2 separate regions of the Homo sapiens genome follow, and region 2 is linked to region 1. The links come from fine-mapping of genetic effects on plasma protein levels. A gene starts in region 1. The other region holds a variant in brackets. All regions are shown on one strand. Distances are from middle to middle. Region 1 holds the start of PLA2R1 (phospholipase A2 receptor 1). Region 2 overlaps LY75-CD302 (LY75-CD302 readthrough).

The links. PIP is the chance, under the fine-mapping model, that this variant and not a neighbour inherited with it causes the effect. Protein levels are from the aptamer-based SomaScan assay of Sun 2018.
Region 2: its variant is fine-mapped to the plasma level of the PLA2R1 protein (Sun 2018, PIP 0.95).

The regions. Positions count from the first base shown.
Region 1 is chr2:160,054,925-160,070,508 of GRCh38, reverse strand. PLA2R1 (phospholipase A2 receptor 1) reads left to right here and starts at 7,894. Exons shown (of 30, transcript NM_007366.5): 1 at 7,894-8,214. The coding sequence starts at 8,106. It overlaps LOC105373717 (a long non-coding RNA gene), which reads right to left. Exons shown (of 3, transcript XR_007087274.1): 2 at 14,279-14,383; 3 at 9,708-10,046. RefSeq lists an enhancer at 14,614-15,295.
Region 2 is chr2:159,822,730-159,838,313 of GRCh38, reverse strand. LY75-CD302 (LY75-CD302 readthrough) reads left to right here. Exons shown (of 38, transcript NM_001198760.1): 26 at 2,669-2,834; 27 at 4,103-4,270; 28 at 6,528-6,644. It overlaps LY75 (lymphocyte antigen 75), which reads left to right. Exons shown (of 35, transcript NM_002349.4): 26 at 2,669-2,834; 27 at 4,103-4,270; 28 at 6,528-6,644. Among named protein-coding and RNA genes, the nearest start is that of CD302, 32 kb to the right of the region's middle. The variant T/C (reference allele first, on the strand shown) is at 7,512.

The DNA.
Region 1 (15,584 bases):
TTTTGTCTGATTTGGCATCCATCTTTAATATCCCTCTAGGACCACCAGATATTTTCTCTCTGTACCTTATGACATAAATTTTGCTATTTGGTTTTCACCTGGGTTGTTTCCTTTAAATGCAAATTTAAGGCTATTTAGCTGACAACTGCCTAGGGCTGTGAAACAGTTTATCTAGAATCTGAAAGTGTAAGATAGAAAAAAAAAGGTTTTTATGAATCTATAAGATGTATTTCTATCAGCATGCCTAATATGTCTTTGTATTTATTTGTTGTGTACACAATGTTTCACTACTGAAAATATATAAAAAACCTCTAATTAATTGGGTTAAGAAAATAAAAGCACTTGAATCAAATACTTTATCAGGATAAAAGAAAAGACTAGTCAAATGCTTTTTCAAGCTTATGTAACTTAAGTAAAATCTTTAATAAGTTAGCTTTACAATTATTGGTAAAGTATTGTTAGAAATGTCTTAAGAATTGCCAGCATACGTTTTTGTTTGCATTTATAAATCAGGCAATTTCATATTTTTCCCTGCCAAATACTATAAGTTGTCAAAAATTGGCATAGGGGTTATAAAACTATACACCCAGCCCAAATCAGAAAGACCTTTGCTTGAGTAATCTTTAATAAGATATTGATATTGGTTTAATAAAAAATTCTACATCTTGAATTTAGTACGATTACCATATCTTCTAATCTTGTGGCTTTAGGTGGTCCATTCTACAGGCAGTAAGGTTTGTTTTGGGAAAGGACTGTCACAGTCTTTGTTTTAAAGCTAAACTATCAACTAAGTTCCTCCCAAAGTTAGTTTGACCTATGCCCAGGAATGAACAGAACAGTTTGGAGGTTAGAAGTAAGATGGAGTCAGTCAGGTCAAATCTTTTCCACTCTCTCAGTTACAATTTCGCAATGGTGGTTCTGTAACTTTAAATAATGACAATCACGGTTTTTGTAAATACTCTAAGTAAATGACAAAAAAATTATTAGGTAAATATAATAGGATAAATACTTGTAGACAAGCTCATCATAATTTAGAATCTAAAGTTATATCAAATTAAATCACATATATTTTATTATTTGGGTATTTTCCAATAAAAATATATTTGTAGGAAAACATTCAAAACAAATGTGTCCTTTAAAAAAAAAGGTGAACAATTTTTATCTAATTCAAAGCTTATTTAAAGGTCATGTATAAAACAAGGTAAAAGGAACCAGGAAATAAAAGAGATGTACAGAAAGTTATTAAAATAAAGAGGGGTTTTTTTGTGAGAAAGCGTAAAGGGAAATAATTTCATATGAGAAAGAATCTCGTATGGTAAATTTAGTCCTAGAGTAAAATGACTAGTTGCTTAAGAAAGAGGGATGTTCAAAACAAACCAGAAAGTACAAGCATGTCATGAATGGTCTATGTAAGTCACAATAAGAGGATTTATTTTTTTAAAAACCAAAAACTTTTATATGATCAAGTTGTCATATTATTATTTAAGTTTTGGGTTGCTTAGGAAAAAAACTGAGATTAAAATTTTTTAATTAAGGTTATTACATCCATCTATCTTTCATCTCTCCATATGCACTTTTAAAATACTTGTGACACTGAGTTACAGGGCTTTGACTCCTGGGTCTAAAAAGGACAACAACTCCTACTACATTTTAAACACTGACAGCAATTAAAGCCCCATTTTCAGGCCCTGTAGGAGATGCCAATCAAAATAAACTGCATTCCTAAGACACAGGACCAGAAATTAAAGCTATTTCAACTCAAGGCCCAGGAACTATCATGGAAAAGGTGGGCATGTGAGATTCTAAGGGCTGATTTTGAAAGATAAAATAAGTTCAGTTTCTCTAAAAAGTAATAATTAATGTTAAAGGCGCAGTGATGCAAGACTAGCATATTGGCCCCTTTGTCAAATTAACAAGGTTTTCTTGAAGCATTAACTGACTCCTCAATAAAGGTTATAAAAGGCTTATGGAAGTTGTATCTTACGGTCAAGATTAAAATTTTATAGATCATTTATAAAATTTCAAAAAACAAATTTAATTGGCTTCATGCTGTTTTTATTAGAGCTTATTGTTTGGAATGTCAAGTCTCCTTTCTCAAAGAATGAAGGTTTTTGCCTTTTTAAATCCTTGAGTTATCACTTTGGTTAAATGAATGATCTTATTTTGTGATATCAAGGGCTTTAAACCTTTGATATTTGATGAACTTTCCAAAATCAAATTATAAATTATGTCTTTTTCTAACCTAATCAATCCTTTAAGATATTAAGTTCCTTAAAGTTCAAAGATGACATAGTTTGGTTTGTCTGGTATAAATATTATACAGGAAACATTGTCAAAGATGAAATGGTGTTTGGTTTTCTTTAGGCTGTATTTATATAAATATATGGTATCTGTTCCAAAATCATGGGAACTCCTATAATTCTGATATGACTTACTGTATATTATCAGTAATACTTATAATTGTTATGTTAAATTATTGTGTGCCACAGATGTAACAAATTTCCTTGTCAATTGTGTCTTTGACCATGGCTGCCCTAAAATTTTTTGTCATCCACAGACAATTGTTGTCTTGTTTTGGTCCTCTTTAGGAGGTGGTTTTCTAATCTGCTATAAAAGTCTAACAGGTGTTCTTAAATGCCGGTTTCTGATAACTTTGGAGATTGTGACATTAGAATAGAGGAAAAACTTTCAGGACTCTCATGGAGAGCTAAAATGTTCATGAATATCAAGCAGAACAGGAGTTAACTATGTAAACTGAACTGATAGAAGACTAATTTTTTGATTTTTGCTTTAAATGTTGCTGATCCTTTGTTCTGCTTTTTTCAGAGTCAAGGAAACTTTTCTTTTGAGCTATTGACAGCTTTAACAATTTAGTATACTCCTATGAACACAATTTGGAGCATATCTGTTTCCCTCTACCTGATTTCTCCAGAATTTGGAAACTATCTGTGAGTATTCTTAACTTATGGCAATACAGTTATTTGCATAACTGCAATAAGAATCTGTTTTCATTTTGCAACAGGACGCAATTGGAGACATTGGTTATTTTACCAAGGCTTTAATGGTGTGCTTTCCTTTAAGGAATCAAACTTGACTTATGGAGTCAATAAAAGCCCTTGGGGAAACTGGTCTCATACCTTCCCTGTACAGGGTTCCTGACCTGTGGTAAGTAAAGAATGTTACTTTCTGACAGGCCCAGGAGCTCCAAGTTTATCTTGGAACCTCAAGAGGAAAGGATCACCCAATTCACAGGTATTAGGTGGCACAAATTCACGGCTGGGCTCGGCTTTAAAAAAGTCTTATCTGAGATTCCTTCTATGGAATAAAGTCCCACCAAAGACAATTTAAAAGCCTATGTAAAAAAATAATTATTCTTGCTGCACAGTATGCAAATAATTAGGATAAGTATAATAAAGCAAATCAGTCCTACCATGATTTGTCTTTAAAAATGGGAAACTGGAGAGAGAAAAATTATGTTTCAAAAACTGTAGTACACCTGTTGTTAGATTCTAGTCTTGTCTGATGTTTTTCAGTTTTATTATTTTCTACAGTTTGGACTGAATTCTAATTTTTTTTGGCTATAAGTTTTCAAAATAATGTTTTTAATTTTTTTTCCTTTTCCCCCCATTTTTCCTAATTTGGAGTCACTGAAAACAAAGCTGTGCTTTTGTAAAGCTCTGCAAACTGAAACTAGACAACTTGAACTTCAGAAGAAAATAACAGCAAAACCTATTTACATACATAAGCCACTTTCATACCTGCCTACTGATGTATGGACTTCAGAGTAATGTGGTCTACATTGATTTTCCAAAATATTTCTTTTGTTTATTGTTGTTGTTCTCCCTTCCTCCCCCTATTTTCTCTTCATAGGACATGAGACTTTACAACTTTCTAAAAATGAGCTTTCCTAATAACTCAGGACCTACCTGTCTAGGAATAAATCATCCTAGCCATGAGATATCAGATAAAAGACTAAACCTGGAACCAGAGACTAATTTGCTCCAAACGATTTATTTTTTTGAGACAGAGAATGCACCTATCATGCAGGCTGGAGTGCAGTGGCATGATCTCAGCTCACTGCAATCTCTGCCTCTCAGGTTCAAGCGATTCTCTTGCCTCGGCCTCCTGAGTAGCTAGGATTACAGGCGTGCACCACCACACCCAGCTAATTTTTGTATCTTTAGTAGAGACGAGGTTTCACCATGTTAGCTAGGCTGGTCTTGAACTCCTGACCTCAGGTGATCCACGTGCCTCAGGCTCCCTTAATGCTGTGATTACAGGTGTGAGCCACCATGCTCGGCCTTCAAAAGATTTTTCAAAAGAAAAGGGGGGAAATGCGAAAGAAAAATATCTTGGGCCCCCCAAATCATTAAGCTAAAGGGAAAAGTCAAACTGGGAACTGCTTATAGCAAACCTGCCTCCCATTCTATTCAAAGACTTCTCACCAAGATAAACGCATATCTGATTGCCTGCTTTGGAGAGGCTAATCAGAAACTTGAAAGAATGCAACCACTTGTCACTTATCTACCTATGACCTGGAAGCCCCGCTCTCCACTTCAAGTTGTCCCGCCTTTCCAGACCAAACCAATGTTCATCATACATACATTGATTGATGTCTCATGTCTCCCTAAAATGTATAAAACCAAACTGTGCTCTGAACACCTTAGGCACAGGTCATCAGGACCTCCTGAGGCTGTGTCACGGGTGTGTGTCCTCAACCTTGGCAAAATAAACTTTCTAAATTAACTGAGGCCCATCTCAAATTTTGGGGGTTCACAGTCCCTTGGGTAAACATTCAACAAACCAGGACCTCACCCTTTCTTGCTGATACCCTGATTCATACAGTGCTCAAAAAGTTTTGTTAATTTTGACAAACCGCAACCTATACATTGAGTTTTAAATCCCATTTTCTTTACTGTCAATACCATTCAAAGTTTTAATATTTTTCTCAAGTTTCAAATCACTCCACACACTGTACAGTAAGTCTTCACTTAACACCATGGACAGGTTCTTGGAAACTGCAATTTTAAGTGAAATGACATACAGCAGGTCCTCAAACAACATTATTTCCTTCACTGTGATTTCATTATGACATTGATGAGAAAAAGAAAATTGGTTTCATTATATGCCATTTTGCTTAAAATCATAGTCTCTAAGAACCTATAGATGACGTTAAGTGAAGACTGACTTCATTTCTTTCAACCTCTTTCTTTTCCTCCCTCATTCCTTCGCTCATTCAGCAGAGACTGAGAGATGACTAAGTGCCAGGAAGTGTGCTGCCCTGGAACTCACATTCAGGTGAGAGATATAAATAATGAATTCCAACTCCAAAGGAGAAGGGAAGCAATGGGAAGCTGTACAAAGGCCAGCAGGCACTGAGCCCTCCCTGCTGTGTTCCCCAGCTGAAGTCCAGAGCCATAATTACCACTAGCACAGTGCTCTGTAGCATGGCTTCTGAGCTCTCCTTTGCTCTTGCTCTCTGCTCCTCACTCCCTCCCCACACACCCACAGCTCCCAGAGGTGAACTTTACAGTGTGTTAGCACTGTGCTAGCACTCTGCATACATTAGCTCATTTAATGCAACCACACAATGAAGCAAACATTATTATCTCCATTTTACACAGAAGGAAACTGAGGCTGGGGCAAACTAAGTGGTGTGCTGGTAAGTGGCAGAGCTGCCTCATTTAACCATGACCCTACACTGCCTCATGAACCTGAAACACACGTGAGCCCAGGATATGGGTGCTGGTCATTTTCTTGAAGGTTAAAAAGCCCTTTACCACAGATTTCCATTTCAAAGCTGCAGTGTTTCAGGAAGAGATTTTTTTTAAAAAAAGAAAAAGTAGCTCTTTTCTGAGTGTTCTAATGGTTGAATAGAAAATACGGGGTTGGTAGGCCAGGAAGCTGTCAACACCTCTCTTCATTATACTAATTGCTCTGAAGATGAAATAAGGTTTGTTTCTCCCTTCTTATCCTACTCACAGACCTAGCTCTGCTACTTCAGAATAGCATCTGCTATGGGTCAAGGGAGGCATTTTCCCCCCTCATTATACAGAGACTAAAACAGGACCATAGCACGTGAATAACTCACCCTGGTCCACAGCCAGTGAGAGGTAGCCCAATGTCCCAGCAACTGTCCTCATTCGTCAGGGTGCCCCAGTGGCTGCCTTTATTTCAGCCAGGCATGCCTCACTCTCTCCCATACAAGCAGTTCTCACTCCAACCTTTGTATAATTTTTTTTTTCACAATTTCTTCCCATCCTAGAACAGCCTCTTCCTCCCAATACCCACCATACTATCTGAGCATAGTTAGGCCTCTATGCCCACTCCAGCCTAGTCTCTCTCCCCTTTACTCTCACTGCCCTGGACCTCACCAGAGATTAGCATCAGTGTCCTGTTTTATGACCTAATTATGTCATGTGCATTGCACTTGCCTGCTGCAATACATGCCAGCCTGCTCGGGCAGGGCCAAATCTTCTATCATAATACTACGGGGATATTCCCATAGCAATGTAGTTCTGAGGCCATAGGAGAGATGGATACATAGTTTGTGGCTGAAGTCTGTGTAATCTACTAGGCTTAAAGCATCTCTTTTCTGCATGTTTTCAAGCAAGGATGCTGAATTCTACATGTAATGATATGTTATAAACTCTACACACATTGGAACCTCTCACATCCTCTCAACCCACCTCTTATTCCAGCCCCCTCTGCAGCCTGTTTCCCCCGGCTGTCCCCCACCCCCCAACCCTCTGAGAAACAACCTGACAGCGCCTCACCTTTTGCCATGCTATGCACCCAGGGCTTCTAAGAGACAAGGTATGGGACCATGACTGAAACTCACCACTGCTGTAGAACAGTGCAGAGGAGTTAATAACCCTAGGATCTCCCTTACCAACAGGGAAGGATAAAGTCCATGGATAAACGCTTGCCCCTTTTGTCCTCGACAGACAGTTCTGAGGCTCTCTGAGGTTCCTGCAGGACTGAGCACCTTTTGTTAAGGCCATGGCCAAGGCAACCACTTTCCCTTCTTCCCCATTTGGCTCTGACCTTCAATCTTGCTCCCTGCTAGGCATTTCCTTCCAGGCTCTGCTTTCTGCCCCTCCCCTCCCCCTCTCTTATGTTTTAATGACTAATGTCAAGGTCCCGCTGAGGAAAGGTCTTATATGAGCCTGTTCTCAGAATATTAAACGCTTCCAGTGTTCTGCTGGTTATTTGAAGGAGGACAGTTAGAACGACTACATTCTAGCCAGGGCTGTCCTACTTGCTAGAGAGTAACTTTTGCTGGATTAGGAAGTAACCTAGAGCAAAGCACTTCGACTTTCTGGGCAGGGTTTCTCAGCTGTAAAAATGGGATAATAGGGACCCCGGCTACTTTGCGGGGCTTGGGGGATCAAAGGAGTTGGAAAGAGGAGGTTATTTCAAAACCGAAGGAGCTGAATAGAAGAATCTCCGGGTTACTCTGGGGCAAGGAAGGTGGAGACCACGGCGTGGCCCCTCAGGTGTCTCCAGTGCTCCACAAGTCAAAGGAGTCCAGGACCCTCCCAAAGCGCCTGCGTCGCGGAGCAGCTGGGTTCACTCTAGGCTGCCCGCTGCAAATCCGCGGTGTTTACCAGAATCCAGGTGGTTTGCAAACCCGGATGTCAGGCTCCTTGTCCCGGAGATTCTCAAATCGCTCACCCACAACTCCTCTTCGGCCTCCCCCAGAAAGGAGAGAGCAGGGCTGCAAGCTAGAGGAGCGGAGAGTGTGACCCGAGCAGCCTCACTCCGCCTGTCCCCACCCCAAAGGCAGGAATTTCTGGGATGGGCAGATGGCCCACCCCTCCTCCTCCTCCTTCCCCAAGCCGCAGTGGGTGGGGCGAGGAAAACCTCCGCGACTTTCCCGCATCCCAGCCCAGAGCCCCGAGTGTCGGTTCACTGTGGAGACAGCGGTGGCGGAGTGGGTCTCCAGGGCTCTGGGCTGGCAAGGCCCCCGGAGGGGGTGGGGCGCGGAGGAGGCTACGGATCCGCTTCCGCGCGGCGGGGCCGGGTGCTTGGGACGCGGCTCTGGGCTCCCGGGATAAGGGGCTCCCGGGACAAGGGGCTCCCGGAGAGCCCAGTGGTTAGCGATGCTGCTGTCGCCGTCGCTGCTGCTGCTGCTGCTGCTGGGGGCGCCGCGGGGCTGCGCCGAGGGTGTGGCGGCGGCGCTTACCCCCGAGCGGCTCCTGGAGTGGCAGGGTGAGTCTCCCAGGGTCGGGGACTGGATCGGTACGTTGGGGAGGGGGGTCGGGGTGGTCGAAGGAGAGGAAGAAGGGGCGAAGCTAGGGGCCAAGCTGGCGGGCAAGGGCGGCCGCGTTTGTAGGGGTTCGTGTGTCAGCAGTCCTGAGCATGGGGGGAGCGGGTGGTGTCCTGCAGCCTCTTGTCTAGGCCCAGCACCCCACTTGCGCGGCCCGGCACCCTCCTGGCTCCTGCGGGGGTCGGGCGGCGGGGGCGGGGGGGCTTGGTCTCGCAGGTAACTCCTCTCGGCTCTGGCGCCCGGAGCCAGCCCGGGATAGGAGTGTCGGAGAAGTTTCAAAACGGAAACTTTCTGAGAGCTGCTTATTTGGGACGGATAAATGATAGCAAAAAGATGGCTCAGTTCGTCCCCTTGCAAAGCAAGCGCTCAGGGTCTGCGTCGCCACCTAGGAGTGACCCCCAAGCCAGGCCTCCCCAGTCCATCCCTTCCTTAAGGAAAACTTTTTTTGTTTGTTTGTTTTTTGAGACAGGGTCTTGCTCTGTCGCCCAGGCTGTAGTGTAATGGCGGGATCTCGGCTCACTGCAGCCTCCGCCTCCCGGGGTCAAGCGATCCTCCCACCTCAGCCTCCCGAGTAGCTGGGACCACAGGTGTGCGCCCGCACGCCCAGCAAAATTTTTGTATTTTTGGTGGAGACGGAGTTTCACCATGTTGCCCAGGCTGGTCTCCAACTCCTGGGCCCAAGTGATCCGCCCACCTCGTCCTCCCAAAGTTCTGGGATTACAGGCCTGACCCACCGCACCCCGCCTGAAAACATCAGGCCAGGTGAGGGAGAGAAGCCCCAGTGGCTCCATGAACTGCGTGATCTGAAGCCTTTATGCCTTAGTCTCTCTCAGTGGAAAAACGGGGTTCAATTCAGCAAACACTTATTGAGCACCTACTACACATGAGACTCAGAAGGTTGTGTAAAGAGAGGGAGGAGAGATTTCTGGCCTGCAGGGGCCCGCATTTGAGAATGGGCCACCTCAGGCAGAGAAGCCTGCGCCTAAGTGCAGAAGTCCATATATGCAAGTAGGAGGGGGACAGGAGGGAGTTAAATATGCCAGGAGGAGCCTCCAGACAGCCTCCATCCTCTCTGCCTTTGGAGATAAGTTTGGAGAGAAGGGGTAACACAAGATGTGATCAATATCTGCGTTCACATTTTTTCCTCCACAGTAGAATATGTCTACATTTTTGAGGTAGTCTTTTCTAGACTGTGTTTCCTAAGCTCCCTGGAGGCTTAATCAGGGGCAGGTAGAACAAGACCATTCTTATTCTAAAGTGACCAAAGTCAGAGATGCTCTTACCTTCTTGGTCAATTCAGAAAATTGCTCCTGTGGATGCACATCTGATCCTGTAGTATGTATGATTCCTTCCCACTAAGTTTACCATGCAGTGGTTATTCCTTTGCATTTTAAAATGTGGGTTTTGCCTGGGCACTAGGTGGTAGAACAGGGCAGCAGCCCACAGGACAGAAGTTGGACTGGGCCACACAGAGAGTATGTGCTGGTGATCCTCCGAGTGAAGGGCTAATCCCTTCTATATGTAGCAGAACCAAATACTGGCCTGAGACAAATTCTCATCAGTGCCTTCTTTTTAGTAGTCAAGGGCACTCTGAAATTAGAGCCATCTGCTAGCCCTTGTACCTACTAGGTGCAATTTGCACATCTGAAAAGGTTGACATAGTTGGCATAGAGATTCTTCAGATATGAAAATGCTGCTGCTGATTTTCCAAGGAGCACGGAGGTTATGTACCATTCCTCGCACAGGCACAGGCTCTCTCCCTGACTCCAGTCACCTGCATGAGTAGAATTTCAAGTGTAAGCTGGACAGGTTTGAAGTCAAGTTTTTACTGTCAATACAAAATGGAAAAACAAAATCTTAACATTGAAAAGAACCTGAGACATTGTCTACTCTAGCCCTCTATTCTTCAGATGTGGAAGTTGAGGTATGGCTACCATGTAGTTAGCCATGCTTTGGGGTGCCTCAGTTTACCGCTGTGTTCACTGTACCACATTGACTCACTTTAGCCACGATTGACATCCACAGAGCAACTGAGAGAAAAATGCACACTCATTTTCATTTCCAATCCACTAATAATGGCTATGTAATAATGCACAGCAGATTATACATACAGCATTTTTTATCTGAATTGTTTGATATGTATTATTTGTAGATCTGATATGTATTACAAGCATGCCAGCCTTGGGAGGCAGATGATGGATTGTACTGTGATGATTTTCCAATGATTTATCAATAATTCTTGATATGGTTTGGCTATGCCCCCACCCAAATCTCAACTTGAATTGTATCTCCCAGAATTCCCACGTGTTGTGGGAGGGACCCAGGGGGAGGTAATTGAATTATGGGAGCCAATCTTTCCCATGCTATTCTCGTGATAGTGAATAAGTCTCACAACCTCTGATGGGTTTATTAAGGGTTTCTGCTTTTGCTTCTTCCTTATCTTTCTCTTGCCGCTGCCACGTAAGAAGTGCCTTTCGCCTCCCACCATGATTCTGAGGACTCCCCAGCCATGTTGAACTGTGAGTCCAACTAAACCTCTTTTTCTTCCCAGTCTTGGGTATGTCTTTTTCAGCAGTGTGAAAATGGAGTAATACAATTCTGTATTCAAAAGTCAGTAGATACAGTATTATATAGTAGTTAAGTTCTCGGGCTTCAGAGCTAGACGATCTGAGTTCAAATCCTGACTATGCCATTTACCATCCGTGTGACCCTGGACAGGTATTTTGCCAGTCAGTAGCTCAGTTTCCTCATCTGTAAAATGGAGCTAGTAATAGTACACATCTAAGTGTTGTCCTTTTGCTGCTCTCTCACCATGGCACCCTCTTCCTCTGGCCAATCCAGACATTTTGACAGGTTGACAGCCCCATAACAATTACTTACTACGGTGCACAGCACTGTACTTGGCAGGTCTGAAACTCATCTCCTCCTACCTCTAGCTCAGGCATCCCCAACCTCCAGGCCACCTACCAGTTTGTGGCCTGTTAGGAACTGGGCCACACAACAGAAGGTGAGCAACAGTGAACAAAAGAGGCTTCATCTGTATTTACAGCTGCTCCCCTTCCCTCACATTACTGTCTGAGCTCCACCTCCTGTCAGACCAGTGGTGGCATTAGATTCTCAAAGGAGCATAAACCCTATTGTGAACTGTGCATGTGAGAGATCTAGGTTGCGAGCTCCTTATGATAATCTAATGCCTGATGATCTGTCACTGTCTCCCGTCACCCCAGATGGGACCGTCTAGTTGCAGGAAAACAGACTCAGGGCTCCCACTGATTCTACATTATGGTGAGCTGTATAATTACTTCATTATATATTACAATGTAATAATAATAGAAGTAAAGTGCACAATAAATGTAATGCACTTGAGTCATCCCAAAACCATCCCCCACCCCACCACCCCATTGGCCTGTGGAAAATTTGTCTTCTGTGAAACCAGTGCCTGGGGCAGAAAAGGTGGGGGACCTTTGCTCTAGCTGGTTATTCCAAGGAGCCTGATTTTAGTTTGTTTTCCCTGATCAGAATCTGAGCCCTTCTTCTAGCAAGTGCTAAGACACACTAACTTCACTCACTCAAGTACTCCAGATACAAAGTGGACAGCGGGGAGAAAGAAGAAGGGGATGGAGCATCCTGGTGAAAACTGGGCATAGTCATTGCTAAAGGAAATGATCAGGGGGCAAGTAAAAGGGTTTTGAAGCTTTGTTGAGGGTTGAAAAATGATAAATGTGAAATGGTCCCCCACTAATATATCGTAGGAGAGTTTCCTTCTGTAGTGCTCAGCTTCCCAGAGCAGGAGTGGAAAGAACCTAAGTCTGTGTCAGTGCCTGGGGACACTCAGGGGAGGCTCTTCTAAATGACCAGTGATCAAAGGAGGTGAGGGTGCAGATGAGTGTGTGGTCAGTGTGCTTGCCATCAGGTCCTATCTGGGGAGAAGAAAGTGAAACAGGGTTGGGTGTACGGGGTGTCTCTCGACATGCTGCGCCGACGGAAAGAGGGGTAGGGGCTGATGGCCTCAGTTGTTCATTATCTGTCAGGCAATATGTGCTTTATCTACCTGTTTTAGTTGGGTTCATCCAAAAGCAATTCCTGAGACATGTTTTCCTTAGGGTGCAAGTAGTTTTTTTTTTTGGAGGTGATTCTAGAAAGCATGGTAAGGGAGTGAGGACATGAGACCAGAGAGGGAAGAAAGCCACCACAGACCACTGGGGCTCAGTTTCACAAAGGACCCTTTGAGGAACTGTATAGAACTCAGTGGACCCACCAACGGGCAGGAAGCTGAAGTATTTATCCACCAACTCCCGCCTCTTATTGACTAAGGTCACTCCTGGGGCATTCACCCCCTGGTGCTCCTGGTCTCTCCCAGGCAGAGAGCCACAGAAAGTCAGTGGGAGTGCACGAGGACTGTCTGCAGGTGAGTGAGCTCCAGGTTAGAGGGTGTGAGAAGGAAACCAACAGAATCTGCTACCCACCTCCAGATTGGGGAGGTAAAAACATGAGTAGGATATGACACTGGCCCCAAGAGGCTGAGAGTCCAGGGACAGATACAGAAACATAAACAATTACAAAACAGTGAGAGAGGTCTTATGATAACCAGGGATGAGCAAAGTGCTGAAGGCATGCAGAGGAGGCACTGGCCTGGGGAGCTGGAGGCTCATAAAAAGACATTTGTTTTCCTAAAGGATAAGTAGGCAGTTACCATATAGGAAAAAGGAGACTGAGCATTCCTGGGAACATGTATTTCATGTGCAAAGGCCCAGGATCACGTGTCAGGCAACAGTAAAAGTTCAGTGAGCTGAAAGTTCCCTTCTGAGCTCTTTTGGATTCAAGGAAAGAGGCCCACTGAAGGTCACTCAGGCAAACGTGGAGTTGGTTGTAATGGTCCCAGGATCTCAAGGGGGACCCAGGACAGGTTCTTCAGGGCAGCCAGGCCTCCTGGGAAACAGGCACTGGCCACTGACATGAAGCATTACTTTATCTGTTTCTCTCTGTCTCTGGGGCTCTATGGTGGTTCCTGCTTGGTTGTTCTTTCTGTTGACTGTTTCTTTGGCTTTGACTAGTAGGACTTTCCTCTGTAGCTCCCTTAGCTTCCTGGGAAGAGTCCCTTAATTTCCTAGGAGAGGGGTCTGGTTACATTCTTCACAGCATGCTAGCTAGTTCCTGTGCTCTGCCCTCAAGTCGAAGGCCTTCCCCTGGCTAATTGGCCATGGTAGAGGCAGGAGGTGGACACAGGGATGGATGCTGCTTCATCCAGGGCTGTGGATGGTATAGACCACCAGAGTAGGGTCCCAGGCAAAACAAGAAGCAGTGACATGTCTATAGTTGGAAGCATGAGAGAGATGAGGAAGAGTTTGGTTGGAGGCACCCTGCTTCTGGAAAAAGTCTGGCTGAGTGAATTGGGTACTGCTGAGAAGGGCCCTGTGGGTTTGCACAAAGGGGAACCAGATTGCATGTTTAAGTTTAGAAGTGCCATGTTCAGTCTGGGACTTGAAGAGGGTCTCCTATCACCTTGAAGAGGGTAATTCTGGAAGGCAGCAAAGAAACCGTCTGGATAGTTAAAGCTGAGCTAAGTCAGTCCCAATAGGAAGATTGAGGAGCAGAAAGTTTGGGTTCAAGAAACAGGGTTTAAAAAGAGGAAAATATATATTTAAAAACAACAACAAAAGAAAACAGTTAGTGAAAGTTAGATGAGGGAAGATTGCAGAATAGGAGAGGTAGTGGTTATAGAGTGCAAAATCCAAGTTTTGGAGATGGACCTATTCTTGGTAGTGACCAGATCCAAGCTGTGTTTGTGGGAGTGGTCACCAAAGTGAAGAAGAGGCAAAAGAAGGTCCTCACAGCAGAGGAGGTCAGGGAGCCCAATGTCCAGAGCAAAGCTAAAGTCGAGTAGAGTTTGGGACTCTTTTGTCAGCAAACCACAATAAGAAATACATTTTACATCACAACCCACAGCATATAGGTCTACATATGTATAACTGAAACAATGTTTCATTTTTTAAAAAATACCCTTACCTAATATGACATGCTGCTACATTTCCCCCTGTTCCATTCTGTTTCGTTTTGTCTCGCTGGTCATAACACATTCAGTTGATTTCAAGACCATAAATGGGCCACAACCTGCAGTGGGGAAAGCATCGAGTCAGAGTGTTGGGTCATCTGTATGGAAGCTAAAGTGGCTTTGGGGTGTGGAGAATAGCGGGGAGTCTGCTGGTATCAAAGCCATGGTGAATGGGGGGAAGAATGGTTCAGGGCAGAGGGCCCCAGTGGCGAGGAAGGGGGGTAGCTGCCACCTTCTGAAAGAGGGCGATGAGAGCCACTACCTGGAGGCGGCAGTGGGGAGAAGCTGTAGCCCTGAGATTTCCTGCATAGCTTCTGTTTCTAATACAAAGGTAAAAATGCCCCTCTACTGCTTCTAGTATTTTCTAACAGCTGGGGAGTCGTTACTCTTTGTTGTTTTATTTACATCGACACATTGTCTCCTCACCAAAACAGGTAGGCAACATTAATACATACCCTTCTTTTACAGATGAAGAAGGGTTAAGTAACTTGTGCCCACAGGAGCTTGCAGCATGGGGATTCGAACCAAGCACTCTGCACTAATGCAAAGGATCCCTGAATAGCCTTGTGACCCCATGGTGTGGTTCATTCTGTATCCTGCTGCATGACAGAAGCATGCGATTTGGTTTCACAGCAGGAAGAATAGGAGGCCAGCCTCTTGTTCTCTGCAACTCCTCCTTTTCCAAACCCCTCCTTCCACATGTGGGAGTGATATTTTCCTAAAGCAGAAATGTGCAAAGCTACTGATTTATGTATTGTTCTAGGCAATTCTGATGTCCCTAGGCAATGAGCCATTCTACTAATCTGGAAACGGAATTTCAGTAAAAGCGTGATCGGATAGTGGTTTAGCTGCCCTTCCTGGCCCTGAATCATGCCAGCCTTCTTGACTCCGTTTCTCCCATTTCTGTTTGTCATCCCTCGCATTTCTTCCCCTTCATACTTTTCTCATCCTACCTTCTCTGCCTGGCTCCTTTCCTGGCAAGCCTTTGTGAGTCAGCATAGATGTCCAGTTTTTCTGGTCCTATTTACTCTTTCTTGTTAAGCCTCTAACTCTTTTCCTATTGTTGGTTGTCACAGTAACTGATGCCACACAATGCAGGTTCCAAGCCCATCACAGGAAAGATGGGGCCACACAGATAGCTTAGTTGTCCCTGCAGCTCCCCTTCTTTGACCTAACAATCTGCTTATTTATATCAAGTTTTCTGAAGAAACGGTCCCCTTGTGTTGCCTCTTCTGAACTCAATCCTAATGCTGCAAATCC
Region 2 (15,584 bases), 230 kb after region 1:
ACATATTCTGTGTAGCTGTTTAACTATATATCCTAATAGCTGCCTTAATTCTTTGAAAATGACAGGATGTTAATAAATACTTTACATTGAAAGCAATGAGAAGATATTGAAAGATTTTAAACAGAGTAGTGGCAATATAAGACTTTACTTAAGTAGACGACACTGTGTGGAAGGCCGGGGAGGACGCAAGCAGCTGGAGAGAGGGAGAGCAGTTATTTTTCTATAAATTCATGCAGGAAATGCTGTTGGCGTTTACAGTGTCTGAGGAGAGGCAGCTCTGGGTTATGTGAAGTGCAGAGTGTGGCCATGCAGTGGGTCACTCAAGTACCCAGCTTGAAGAAATAAAAATACATAGAATTAAAGGAAGTCAAGAAGGCTTGGAAACATGAACACAGGCATCCCAAGTTAATGGTAGGACCGGGAGGACAGCAAGAATTGGGACATCTTAGTGAATGTCAGGGAGGAGCAAGGCGACCAAGTCCTCAGTGAATGTCATGGGGAGTTTGCAGTGATACAAGGGGAATAATCCTGAAAGGAAATAAAAGGAGATAAAAATATCCACTACTCCTTTCTCATAGTCCTGTGGTATCTGAGAATAGAATATCAAATAGTCTTCCCCTGTGGGTGCTGAAAGGAGATTATTCCCTTGGAAAAGCCAGATTTATGTATTTATTTAAGATTCAGGGGGTACACATGCAGGATTGTTACAATACATACACTGTGGGATGCTGAGGCTTGGGCTTCAGTTGAACCTGTCACCCAAATAGTGAACACAGTACCCAATAGGTAGTGTTTCAACCCTTGCTCCACTCCCTCCCCACTTTTGGAGTCCCCAGACAATATCATGCCCATCTTTACATCCATGTGTACCCAATATTTAGCTCCCACTTATATAAGTGAGAACATGTGGTATTTGGTCTTCTGTTCCTGCATTAATTTACTTAGGATAATGTCCTCCAGCTACATCCATGTTGCTGTAAAGGAGATGATTTCGTTCTTTTTTATGGCTGCACAGTATGCCATCATGTATATGTGCTACATCTTCTTGATCCAATCCACTGCTGATGGACATCTAGATTGATTCCCTGTCTTTGCTGTTGTGAATAGTGCTACAATAAACATATGAGCGCAGGTGTATTTTGGTAGAACGATTTGTTTTCCTCTGGGTATATACCCAGTAATGGGATTGCTGGGTTGAATGGTAATTCTATTTTTGTTTTTTGGGAAATCTCCAAACTACTTTCCGCAGGGGCTGAACTAATTTATAATCCCACCAACAATGTGTGAGCATTCCCTGGAAAAGCCAGAGTTAAATTAAGATCAATTAAGATCAAGAATTTAGTGAAAAGATATTTATAGTCTTCATACTTTGTATTCAGTAAAAAGATAAAAGGTGTGGGATGATTTATTTAGATGGAATGGAAATTCCAAAGGATCAGGGACAGGGTTAGGTGGGGAGTGCAGCAAAGGGGAAGAAATGCAGGGCAGTCTGAATGAGTGCAGGCAAAGTCGCATGGCCGAAGGGCCACACTGGAGGCCACAGTGGCTTAGGCCCTAACTGGGTTAGGTTAGGGGCTAGGATTACAGCTGGAACTCTGGTCATGAACATTTCAGAATGAAGCAGCGAGTGGTGTTGAGGCTTGACTGTGTTGCTGTTTATGGTTTACTAAGGAGACTGTGTCGCTTCGTTCCATATTTCAAATAAACTAGTGATGCAGATTGTCTTGGGACTCAGGAAAGCTTAGCTCAGTGGGTCTGTTAGGCCAGCACCAGGCCCACCAGTGGGTATGTAAGGTCTCTGGCAGCACCATGGGGAAGCTCAGACAGGCCTGTACCCCACAATCCATCTCCTGTACCTAGATGGGTGGTCAGGACCTTGGCAGGGTGTAAAGGCAGACGTTCACAGACCTCTAGCACACAACAGAATCTAGTGAATGAAGAAGCTTCTCTCCCCAACAAGTGTGAAAACAGTGATGTGAGAGCCACAGCGCCTGAAGAGTTCAGAGGAAGGGAACCACCAGCTCTCTGTGTGCCAGCTAGCCCCTGGGTTGCGGGCTTTACACATGTTATCCCATTAATTCCAGCCCCACGAAGTTAAGTGTCACACTTAACTTGGTAGGGGATGGAAATTTGGAGAGATGGCACATGAAAGCTAGTAAGTGACTGAATCAGGATTCAAAACCATGTAGGTTTAGCTCCGTAGCCCATATTCTTTCCACTATGCCAGGTGGTCTCTGATCTAATCAGTACTTATAGTGATCCTCACCCCATTTTAGCTTTCTGATTTCTGATAACCAGTGGATCCAATTATGTGTGAGGCAGCGTAGCATAATGGTTAGGACATAGACTCTGGGGATCGACAGCCTGGCAGAAAGGCCCAGCACTGTGGTTTGTATTCTGTGGGACTTTGCACAAGTTACATACCTTTAGTTTCCTCATCTTTAAAATGGAGATAATAATAGTACCTCTCCTATATGGTTGTTACAAGGATTAAGTAAGCCAATATTTGTAAAGCATTTAGAACAATGCTTGTTATGTAGTAAATGGTATGTAAATGTGTATTAAATATTAAAAAAATTAAAAATCATTAGATTGACCATGGGAGTCAAAATAATACAAAGGGTTAACATCAATATTGCCACCTGAAATGTACTTCTGCTCCTTACAGGATGAACTCAACTTTGGTTGGTCAGATGGGAAACGTCTTCATTTTAGTCGCTGGGCTGAAACTAATGGGCAACTCGAAGACTGTGTAGTATTAGACACTGATGGATTCTGGAAAACAGTTGATTGCAATGACAATCAACCAGGTGCTATTTGCTACTATTCAGGAAGTATGTGAATTTCAGATCTTTTAATTCTTAAATTATTAACAGTCCCATAAGTGGTAGAATTTCTGAGGAGTGGTTTTATAAAATCTGGTTTTGGAATTGTGAAGAAATTATAGTCATGTCTTTTTATGGCAACATTTGTTGTGAAAATTTGTATTCAAGTAGAATTATATATTACATATATTATTATTAATGGGTCATTTTAGGCATGTTTTATTTTTATGTCAGCTGACAATGGGGATTAACACTTAAAATCCCATTGTTACTCTACCTCTTTCTGCATATATTTATAGTTGTAGAAAGCTTACATTTGTGAGAATTCTTTTGTGATTCATAATATCACAACTAACAGGACTTTTATGAGTCTTAAGATTCACAGCAACCACCTCAAGCTAGCTTAAGACAAGGGGAAATTTAGGATCCCCAAAACGGGGATAGAGCTGAACCTATAACTGGAGATGAGTTGACAATTTCTAAATTTCACTTTGTAAATCCCTAGAGAACATCTCATGAACTTAGCCTGAGTCAGGTGTGCAGTCTCTAGCCCAGTCAGAGGAAAGTGTTTTTACAACTGGCAAGGTCACATTTGTGGGTCTGTGGTAGAAAGAAGACACTGCTTCATGGACAAAGGGACTTATTGTGATCCAGGAGAGATACTGAGTGATCTCTGCCACATATTAAATCAGTTTAATGTATTTGAGTGGAATATGTTTATATTTGTATCTTTGTGAATGTATGGCCTTTTCATAAAATGGAAAAAGATCATAATCAGATACTGTAGATGTCAGATTTTAAATATTATTTTTGTTTGACTTGGTTAAAGCAATAACTTATTTAGAACATCAATGTTTCATTTAAATGTTCCTTTAAAATTAATAGTATCAGTAGACAGAAACTTTAAAATAAATTCTCAGAGTTATAGTTAGGTGACTTTTAATAATGAATATGTTTGTACAGCATCTCTAGGGGTGGTCCCTTGTACTTGACATTTGGTAATGCAGGAAGACAGAAACTGCATTTAACCTAATAGCACCTCATTTTTTACATTCTTCCATGCCACAGCAGGGGTAAGAAAATTGTGTCAAGTAATTTCCTTCCTATAGAAAGCTGGCTTTTTGTGTGCTATATCTGAGTATAAACAGAGACAGGCTTCACCAGGATATTACTTCTCGGCTTCCTGAATATTTCCTACAAATCAAGCCTAATGACTGCAAACAGGATTTAACATTTATATCTCAAATTAGAATTCTTACCATTAACTCTTTTTCTAGATGAGACTGAAAAAGAGGTCAAACCAGTTGACAGTGTTAAATGTCCATCTCCTGTTCTAAATACTCCGTGGATACCATTTCAGAACTGTTGCTACAATTTCATAATAACAAAGAATAGGCATATGGCAACAACACAGGATGAAGTTCATACTAAATGCCAGAAACTGAGTAAGTATTATATTAGTCCATTCTCATGTTGCTATAAGGACATACCCGAGGCTAGGTAATTTATAAAGAAAAAGAGGTTTAATGGCCTCACAGTTCCACATGGCTGGGGAGGCCTCACAATCATGGCAGAAGGCAAAGGAGAAGCAAAGACATGTTTACATGGCAGCAGGCAAGAGAGCATGTGCAGGGAAACTGCCCTTTGTAAAACCATCAGATCTCATAAGACTTACTATCACGAGAACAGCACGGGAAAAACCCACCCTCAAGATTCAATTACCTCCCACCAGGTCCCTCCCATGACATGTGGGGATTATGGGAGCTACAATTCAACATGGGATTTGGATGGGGAAACAGCCAAACCATATCAAGTATATTATACTGTCATTACTTATTGTATTTTGCTAATTAAAAAAATATTTCCTGTGTTATAAATATTTCTAATTAGCACTAGTAACTAGATGACAAAAATATTCATCTCCTAATATCTACATTATCAGTGACAAAGTATTAAAATTTGTGTTAGTTAAAATGGAAAGTATAGGCATAACTCCTTTCTTTACTCTTCCATTCAAGAACTAGTCTATGTTTGTAAGGAAGGCAGGTTCTCCTTTAAAAGGAAAAGAAATGGGCTAGGCACACTGGCTCATGCCTGTAATCCTAGTTCTTTGGAAGGCTGAAGTGGGAGGATTGTTTGATGCCAACCATTCAAGACCAGCCTGGGCAACATAGTGAGACTTTCTGTCTGCAAAAAATTAAAAGCATGGTGGCACATGCCTGTAATTCTAGCTACTTGGGAGGCTAAGGAGGGAGGATCTTTGAACCCAAGAGGTTGAAGGTGCAGTGAGCTGTGATTGAACCACCTGCACTCCAGCCTGGATAACAGGTGACCCTATCTCCAAAAAAAAAAAAAAAAAGGAAGGGGGAAAGAAATGACACACAAGAGAGCAGAGAACTGGACATTAAATCAAGCTAGGCTATGGGGAAGTGAAAATAAGTTAGTTGGAGCAGTCAAAAGCTTAGATACACCACAAGGCAGCAGCTAAGCTTAAAGAAGTGCACATTTCACATTTTCAGCTCTCAAGAGTCTTCAGATAATTCCTATGAGATCCACTAAGGATTTGTGACTTCCAAATGATGGAACTGTTGGAACCAATGGAACAATGAACTTAGTGAAAGTTGCTATAGAAAATATCAAACCAGTATTTCCCAAAGCATGCTCCGTATAACATCAGTCTTGAGAGATGGTCTGCAAAAAGTCCTTAGAATAAGGTTGAAAAAAATAACCAACAAAAAAGAAAAAGGTTGAGAAACACTAGACACCATAGCTTCCTGTTGGACATTAACAAATGTACATTAACATATGCCTTAAGAAATACTGGCATAAACTAGTTTAATTTTGTTTAAACCAATGTTTGCAAACTTTTTTTAAAATCCATGTAGATCTTTTCTGAAACTTCCTTGTTAATTTTGTGAGGAACACCCTTTGGGAAATATTAAGCCTTTTTAACCCTCATACTGAAAACTAAGGAAAAGGAAGATCTGTCGTATAGCCCAGCAGTCCCCAACCTTTTTGGCACTGACAGGGAGGGGTGGATGGTTTCAGGATGAAACTGTTCCACCTCAGATCATCAGACCTTAGTTAGATTCTCATAAGGAGTATGTAAGCTATATCCCTCGCATGCATAGTTCACAAGAGGGTTTGCACTCCTCTGTCAATCTAATGCCACAGTGCTCTAACAGGAGGCAGAGCTCAAGCGGTGATGCTCGCTTGCCTGCTGCTCACCTCCTGCTGTATGGCCCGGTTCCTAACAGGCCCGGTTCCTAACAGGCCTGGTTCCTAACAGTACCAGTGTGTGGCCCGGGGGTTGGGAACCCCTGTTATAGTTCATCTAAGAGGTTCTAATTATTATAGCGTAATCTTTGACAGTATATCATTACTATGGGTGGATTTATACCAACTGAAAAATTACCTTTAAATAGGGGAAAGTGAAGTGAATCAATGTTTTAAATTCTCTACTCAGCTACTAGTTTTCTATTATACCATAAGACCAAATTTAACATCAAAACATTTGAAAACTCCTTAACCTATTAATTTTAGTACAATGGGATAATTTTATTTTACATATGTTTCTAATTGTCCAATATTGTTTATATTTTGAAGTATATTAAACTGAGAACTAAAATGTTTTAAACTTATCAAATAGAAGTGTACTAGATAAGTAATTGTTAAAATTATTGATTATTTTTTATTCAACAGATCCAAAATCACATATTCTGAGTATTCGAGATGAAAAGGAGAATAACTTTGTTCTTGAGCAACTGCTGTACTTCAATTATATGGCTTCATGGGTCATGTTAGGAATAACTTATAGAAGTAAGTTGTAAATCTGCCAACTTTCTCTATTTGTTTTTGTACTTCATTATAACATAATTATCAAGCCATAGTTCTTCAAAGTACATGTCTATCAATACGTGAAAGTATAATTATGTACTTAGCATAACTTACATAAATACCAAGACAGTTTTTATGTCTCTGCTCTGCCTTTATCATCGAGTTTAAAGTTAAATGGCGGAAAATAATTTTCTGAATTAGTTTGTTCCCGCACTGCTAAAAAGAACTACCCGAACCTGGGTAATTTATGAAGAAAAGAGCTTTAATTGAGTCACGGTTCCACAGGCTTTACAGAAAGCATGGCTGGGCAGCCTCAGGAAACTTACAATCATGTCAGAGGCGAATGGGAAACAAGCAGGTTTTACTATGGTGGAGCAGGAGAGAGAGTGAAGGAGGAGGTGCTACACACTTTTGAACAACCAGAACTCATTAGAACTCACTCACTATCACGAGAACAGCAAGGGGGAAAATCACCTCCCACCAGGCCCCTCCTCCAAGACTGAAGATCATAATTCAACATGAGATTTGGATGAGGACACAGAGCCAAACCATATCAATTTTCTTTTTTCACTCTTTTATGTAGCAACTCAAGACTAACTAAAAATGATCACCATCCCATATAAATCTTCAATACTTATTTTTTGTTTCCACTAACTATGTGAGATGAGCAAGAACAGAATCACTCTATTAGTGTTGCAGTTTTGGGTTTATAACCCTGGCTTAGTTTATACTGGCCCACATATGATAAGCATTAGAAAAATGAGACACATGGCCAGGTGTAGCGTCCCACGCCTGTAATCCCAGTACTTTGGGAGGCCAAGGCGGGTGGATCACCAGAGGTCAGGAGTT[T/C]GAGACCAGCCTGGCCAACATGGTGAAACCCTGTCTCTACTAAAAATACAAAAATTAGCCAGGCATGGTGACGTGTGCCTAGTTACTTGGGAAGCTGAGGCAGGAGAATCACTTGAACCCGGGAGGCAGAGGTTGCGGTGAGCCAAGATGGTGCCACTGCACTCCAGCCAGGGCAACAGAGACTCAAGACTCCATCTCAAAAAAAAAAAAAAAAGAATAGAAAAATGAGACACATGGTCTGACAATGGGCTCGAATATTTGGAATTTGGACTAAATACCACCAATCCAAAATATGATTGATAACAAAATTTTTTAAAACAGTCTAATATAGAGGAAACAAGGTCTTGTTTCTAAATGCTTCTGAGCATTTAGAAAGATGCTCAGAAATGTCCTGAAAATCATAGACATTTTGGAATTAGGAAAACCTTTCCACGGCCATAGAGCATCAAAAGCATACATTTACTCTAAAGAGGGTTTGATAAGGGGCACAGGACAATGATAACCAGGGGTAGGGAAGGAAAAGAAGCTAAATTACTCAAATCTGCCTGTTTTAAAAATAGGCTTCTCCTTTGCTCTCTAACCCATCTGTTTCTTGGGGTTACCAATGTTTTCCTGAAATGTTTATGGTTGGCAGAGGGGTTAATGGAAATTAAACTATCAAGCAATAGATAAAGACTTGGTTTACCAAGTGAGGATAAGTTCATCATAGTAGGACTTAGTTGGCCCAAACCTTTTCTCTGATGACACTTAACTACCCTTGAATTAAAATGGAGAAAAACTAGCTGGAAAATTCTGAGGCTTCACCTGAAAGTGACTGAAGAAACAATGGTCTTGTATTGAGCCATAGAGACCACACCCAGGACAGAGAGATTGAAATTGTACCCTTTGGTATACTTTGTAGTTATATTATCAGAAGCAACTGAAAATCTATTATAAATTCTGAAAAAGCATTTTTAGATCAGAAGACTCCCTTATTGTTTTACCTTCTTTCATAAAATGTTTGAGTAATAAAATTTCTATTAAAATATACAGGCATATGAGGGACATATAGAAAGACATTTCAGGCAAATGGCACATTTGATTTGAATCTCATTCTTACTGACTTAATTTACATCTGTAAGTTACTGTTTTGGGTTACTTTGATATACTTATATTTAATTTTTTGGCCCCTATACAAGGAATTCTGTTTTTAAAACAGCTTTGACTTTTCAATAGCAGGGCCATGAATAGAAATCACTGTAAGTCACTGTTTTTGGTTACGTTGATATAGAATATTTAATTGTATTTGGCACCTACCCAAAGAAGTTTGTTTTTTTAAACATTTTTGATTTTTCAATAGCAGGGCCATGAATAGAAATTACTATGAGAAGCCACAGTATGTCAACTGAGAGATACATTAAGCCAAGTGAAAAAAGTGACTTTTTCTTAAAACAACTTTAGAAATCTACCATTGCACATCATATTGGTCAGAAAATTGATAACTTTGAAGTTTAGGAGAAGGGAAGAGGAACTGGAAGGCATGAGATGATATAAAGCAGCAAACAAGAACCAAATCGTGTGTGCAGTGCTTCTAATGTGTCATTGCTGCAGGCAGATGTTTAGGGGTCTTGCCTTGGGAGATGGTAATCAATGAAGACCAGAAATAACCAGGACAACATTGGGTGTGTGTAGGTAGTGATGGCATCAATCTTTATACCAATTTATAATTGTAATATGCCTAGCACCTTTTTTTAAAGCTTTATTGCAATCATCACTACCCCAAAAAGAAACACAATACCCACTAGTATTCCCTCCCTGTCTCCTAGTCCTCAGCAACCACTGATCTACTTTCTGTCTCTACAGATTGCCTGAATGTAAAATTCTGGACATTTTACATAAATGAAATCATACCATGTGTGCTTTTTGCGTGTGACTGGCTTTTTCCATTAAGCATAAAGATTTTAAGGTTTATCCACATTGTAGCATGTATCAGTACGTTATTCCTTTTTATGACTGAATAAAATTCCATTCTATGGATATAATACATTTTATTTATCCATGTATCACTTGATGGACATTTAGGTAAAACAACCTAAATTTTAAACCATTTTTAATTATTATGTATAATGCTTCTCTGAACATTCACGTACAAGTTTTTGCATGGACATATGTTTCCATTTCTCTTGGGTAAACCCCTGGGAATAGAATTGCTGCATCTTTTGTTTAACCCTTTGAAGAACTACCAGGTTGTTTTCCAAACCAGCTATACCATTTTCCATTCCCGGTATATGAGAGTACTGATTTCTCCGTATCGATGCCAACATTTGTGTGTTTTTCATTATAGCCATCTAAGTGAGTGTGGAATGATATCTCACTGGGATTTTTATTTCATTTCCCTAATGGCTAATGATATTAAGCATCTTTTCATGTGCTTATTGAATATTTGTATATCACCTTTGGGGAAATCCCTATTCAGATTTTTTGCTCATGTTTTAAATTGAGTCTTTTTATTGTCGAGGGGTAAGAATTCTTTATATATTCTGGATATAAATACTTTCCAGTATTTATATATAAATATATAAATAATTTCCAAATTATTTTAAAATTTATATAAAATATAAAATTTTATATTTCTGGATATAAATAATTTCCAAATATTTTCTCCCATGACTTTACTTATGCCACAAAAGTGTTTTTCTTTTTTTTTCTTCTTTTTTTATTGTACTTTAAGTTCTGGGGTACATGTGTAGAACGTGCAGTTTTGTTACATAGGTATACACATGCCATGGTGGTTTGATGCACCCATCAACCCGTCACCTACGTTAGGTATTTCTCCTAATGTTATCCCTCCCCTAGCCCCCTACCCCCCGACAGGCCCAGTGTGTGATGTTCCACTCCCTGTGTCCATGTGTTCTCATTGTTCAACTCCCACTTATGAGTGAGAACATGCGGTGTTTGGTTTTCTGTTCCTGTGTTAATTTGCTGAGATTGATGGTTTCTAGCTTCATCCATGTCCCTGCAAAGGACAGGAACTCATCCTTTTTTATGGCTGCATAGTATTCTATGGTATCTATGTGCCACATTTTCTTTATCCAGTTTATCATTGATGGACATTTGGGTTGGTTCCAAGTCTTTGCTATTGGAATAGTGCCACAATAAACATACGTGTGCATACATCTTTATAGTGGAATGATTTGTAATCCTTTGAGTATATACCCAGTAATGGGATTGCTGGGTCAAATGATATTTCTAGTTCTAGATCCTTAAGGAATTGCCATACTGTCTTCCACAATGGTTGAACTAATTTACAGTCCCACCAACAGTGTAAAAGTGTTCCTATTTCTCCACATCCTCTCCAGCACCTGTTGTTCCTGACTTTTTAATGATTGTCATTCTAACTGGCATGAGATGGTATCTCATTGTGGTTTTGATTTGCATTTCTCTAATGACGAGTGATGATGAGCATTTTTTCATGTGTCTGTTGGCTGTATAAATGTCTTCTCTTGAGAAGTGTCTGTTCATATCCTTTGCCCAATTTTGATGGGGTTGTTTGTTTTTTTCTTGTAAATTTGTTGAAGTTTCTTGTAGATTCTGGATATTAGCCCTTTGTCAAATGGATAGACTGCAAAAATTTTCTCTCATTTTGTATGTTGCCTGTTGACTCTGATGATAGTTTCTTTTGCTATGCAGAAGCTCTTTAGTTTAATTAGATCCCATTTGTCAATTTTGGCTTTTGTTGCCGTTGCTTTTGGTGTTTTAGACATGAAGTCTTTGCCCATGCCTATGTCCTGGATGGTATTGCCCAGGTTTCCTTCTAGGATTTTTATGGTCATAGGTCTTACATTTAAGTCTTTGATCCATCTTGAGTTTATTTTTGTATAAGGTGTGAGGAAGGGGGGTCCAGTTTCAGTTTTCTGCATATGGCTAGCCAGTTTTCCCAACACCATTTATTAAATAGGGAATATTTTACCCAGTGCTTGTTTGTGTCAGATTTGTCAAAGATCAGATGGTTGTAGATGTGTGGTGTTATTTCTGAGGCCTCTGTTCTGTTCCATTGGTCTATATCTCTGTTTTGGTACCAGTACCATGATGTTTTGGTTACTGTAGCCTCATAGTATAGTTTGAAGTCAGGTAGCATGATGCCTCCATCTTTGTTCTTCTTGTCCAGGATTGTCTTGGCTATCCGGGCTCTTTTTTGGTTCCATATGAAGTTTAAAGTAGTTTTTTCCAGTTCTGTGAAGAAAGTCAGTGGTAGCTTCATGGGGATAGCATTGAATCTATAAATTACTTTGGGCAGTATGGCCATTTTCACGATATTGATTCTACCTATCCATGAGCATGGAATGTTTTTCCATTTGTTTGTGTCCTCTTTTATTTCCTTGAGCAGTGGTTTGTAGTTCTCCTTGAAGAGGTCCTTCACATCCCAGGTAAGTTGTATTCCTAGGTATTTTATTCTCTTTGTAACAGTTGTGAATGGGAGTTCATTCATGATTTGGCTCTCTATTTGTCTGTTATTGGTGTACAGGAATGCTTGTGATTTTTGCACATTGATTTTGTATCTTGAGACTTTGCTGAGGTTCCTTATCAGCTTAAGGAGAATTTGGGCTGAGGTGATGGGGCTTTCTAAATATACAATCATGTCATCTGCAAACAGAGACAATTTGACTTCCCCTCTTCCCATTTGAATGCCCTTCATTTCTTTCTCTTGCCAGATTGCCCTGGCCAGAACTTCCAATACTATGTTGAACAGGAGAGGTGAGAGAGGGCATCCTTATCTTGTGCCAGTTTTCAAAGGGAATGCTTCCAGTTTTTGCCCATTCAGTATGATACTGGCTGTGGGTTTATCATGAATAGCTCTTATTATTTTGAGATACGTTCCATCAATACCTAGTTTGAGAGTTTTTAGCATGAAGGGGTGTTGAATTTTGTCGAAGGCCTTTTCTGCAACTATTGAGATAATCATGTAATTTTTGTCATTGGTTCTGTTTATGTGATGGATTATGTTTATTGATTTGCATATGTTGAACCAGTCTTTCATCCCAGATATGAAGCCGACTTGATCCTGGTGGATAAACTTTTTGATGTGCTGCTGGATTCGGTTTGCCAGTATTTTCTTGAGGATTTTTGCATCGATGTTCATCAGAGATATTGGCCTGAAATTTTCTTTTTTTGTTGTGTTTCTGCCAGGTTTTGGTATCAGGATGATGCTGGCCTCATAAAATGAGTGAAGGAGGAGTCCCTCTTTTTCTATTGTTTGGAATAGTTTCAGAAGGAATGTTACCAGCTCCTCTTTGTACCTCTGGTAGAATTCAGCTGTGAATCTGTCTGGTCCTGGACTTTTTTCGGTTGGTAGGCTATTAATTACTGCCTAAATTTCAGAACTTGTTATTGGCTTATTCAGGGATTCAGCTTCTTCCTGGTTTAGACTTGGGAGGGTGTATGTGTCCAGGAATTTATCCATTTCTTCTAGATTTTCTAGTTTATCTGCATAGAGGTGTTTATAGTATTCTCTGATGGTAGTTTGTATTTCTGTGGGATCAGTGGTGGTATCCCCTATATCATTTTTTATTGTGTCTATTTGATTCTTATCTCTTTTCTTCTTTATTAGTCTGGCTAGTGGTCTATCTATTTTATTCATCTTTTCAAAAACCAGCTCCTGGATTCACTGATTTTTTGAAGGTTGTTTTTTTGTCTCTATCGCCTTCAGTTCTGCTCTGACGTTAGTTATTTCTTGTCTTCTGCTAGCTTTTGAATTTGTTTGCTGTTGCTTCTCTACTTCTTTTAACTTTGATGTTAGGGTGTTAATTTTAGATCTTTCCTGCTTTCTCTTGTGGGCATTTAGTGCTATAAATTTCCCCCTACACACTGCTTTAAATGTGTCCCAAAGATTCTGATATGTTGTGTCTTTGTTCTCATTGGTTTCAAAGAACATCTTTATTTCTGCCTTCATTTCGTTATTTACCCAGTGTCATTCAGGAGCAGGTTGTTCAGTTTCCATGTAGTTGTGCGGTTTTGAGTGAGTTTCTTAATCCTGAGTTCTAATTTGATTGCACTGTGGTATGAGAGACTTATGATTTCCATTCTTTTGCTTTTGCTTAGGAGTGTTTTACTTTCAATTATGTGGTCAATTTTAGAATAAGTGCGATGAGGTGCTGAGAAGAATGTATATTCTATTGATTTGGGCTGGAGAGTTCTGTAGATGGCTATTAGGTCCACTTGGTCCAGAGCTGAGTTCAAGTCCTGAATATCCTTGTTAATTTTCTGTCTCGTTGATCTAATATTGACAGTGGGGTGTTAAAGTCTCCCACTATTATTGTGCAGGAGCCTAAGTCTCTTTGTAGGTCTCTATGAACTTGCTTTGTGAATCTGGGTGCTCCTGTATTGGGTGCATATATGTTTTGGATAGTTAACTCTTCTTGCTGCATTGATCCCTCTACCATTATGTAATGGCCTTCTTTGTCTCTTTTGATCTTTGTTAGTTTAAAGTCTGTTTTATCAGAGATTAGGATTGCAACTTCTGCTTTTTTTTTGTTTTGTTTTCCATTTGCTTGGTAAATATTCCTCCATCCCTTTATTTTGAGCCTATTTGTGTCTTTGCACATGAGGTGGGTCTCCTGAACCCATCTCATCTGAACAGCACATTGATGGGTCTTGACTCTTTATCCAATTTGCCAGTCGTGTGTTTTAATTGGGGGCATTTAGCCCCTTTACATTTAAGGTTAATATTGTTATGTGTGAATTTGATCCTGTCATTATGATGCTAGCTGATTGTTTTGCATGTTAGTTGATGCAGTTTCTTCATAGTGTGAATGTTCTTTACAGTTTGGTATGTTTTGCAGTGGCTGGTACCGGTTTTTCCTTTCCATGTTTAGTGCTTCCTTCAGGAGCTCTTGTAAGGCAGGCTTGGTGGTGACAAAATCTCTCAGCACTTGCCTGTCTGTCAAGGATTTTATTTCTCCTTTGCTTATGAAGCTTAGTTTGGCTGGATATGAAATTCTGGGTTGAAAATTCTTTTCTTTAGGAATGTTGAATATTGGCTCCCACTCTCTTCTGGCTTGTAAAGTTTCTGCAGGGAGATCTACTATTAGTCTGATGGGCTTCCCTTTGTGGGTAACCTGACCTTTCTCTCTGGCTGTTCTTAACATTTTTTCCTTCATTTCAACCTTGGTAAATTTGATGATTATGTGTTTTGGGGTTGCTCCTCTCGAGGAGTATCTTTGGGTTGTTCTCTGTGTCTTCTGAATTTCAGTGTTGGCCTGTCTTGCTAGGTTGGTGAAGTTCTCCCAGATAATATCCTGAAGTGTGTTTTCCAACTTGGTTTCATTCTCCTCATCACTTTCAGGTACACCAGTCAAACGTAGATTTGGTCTTTTCACATAGTCCCATATTTCTTGGAGGCTTTGTTCATTCCTTTTTATTCTTTTTTCTTTAATCGTGTCTTCTCTCTTTATTTCATTAAGTTGATCTTCAATCCCTGATATCCTTTCTTCCGCTTGATCAATTCAGCTATTGATACTTGTGTATGCTTCACGAAGTTCTCATGCTGTGTTTTTCAGCTCCATCAGGTCACTAATGTTCTTCTCTACACTGGGTATTCTAGTTAGCAGTTCCTCTAACCTTTTTTCAAGGTTCTTAGCTTCCTTGCATTGGGTTAGAACATGCTCCTTTAGCTCGGAGCAGTTTGTAATTACCCACCTTCTGAAGCCCACTTCTGTCAATTCATCAAACTCTTTCTCCATCCAGTTTTGTTCGCTAGCTGGTGAAGAGTTGTGATCCTTTGGAGGAGAAGAAGTGTTCTGGTTTTTGGAATTTTCAGCCTTTTTGCACTGGTTTCTCCCCATCTTTGTGGATTTATCTACCTTTGGTCTTTGATGTTGGTGACCTTCAGATGGGGTCTTTGAGTGGACATGCTATTCTTTTCTGTTTTTTAGTTTTCCTTCTAACAGGCCCCTCTGCTGCTGGTCTGCTGGAGTTTGCTGGATGTCTACCCGACTCTGTTTGCCTAGTTATCACCCACGGAGGCTGCAGAACAGCAAAGATTGCTGCCTGTTCTTTCCTCTGGAAGCTTCTTCCCAGAGGGGCACCTGCCTGATG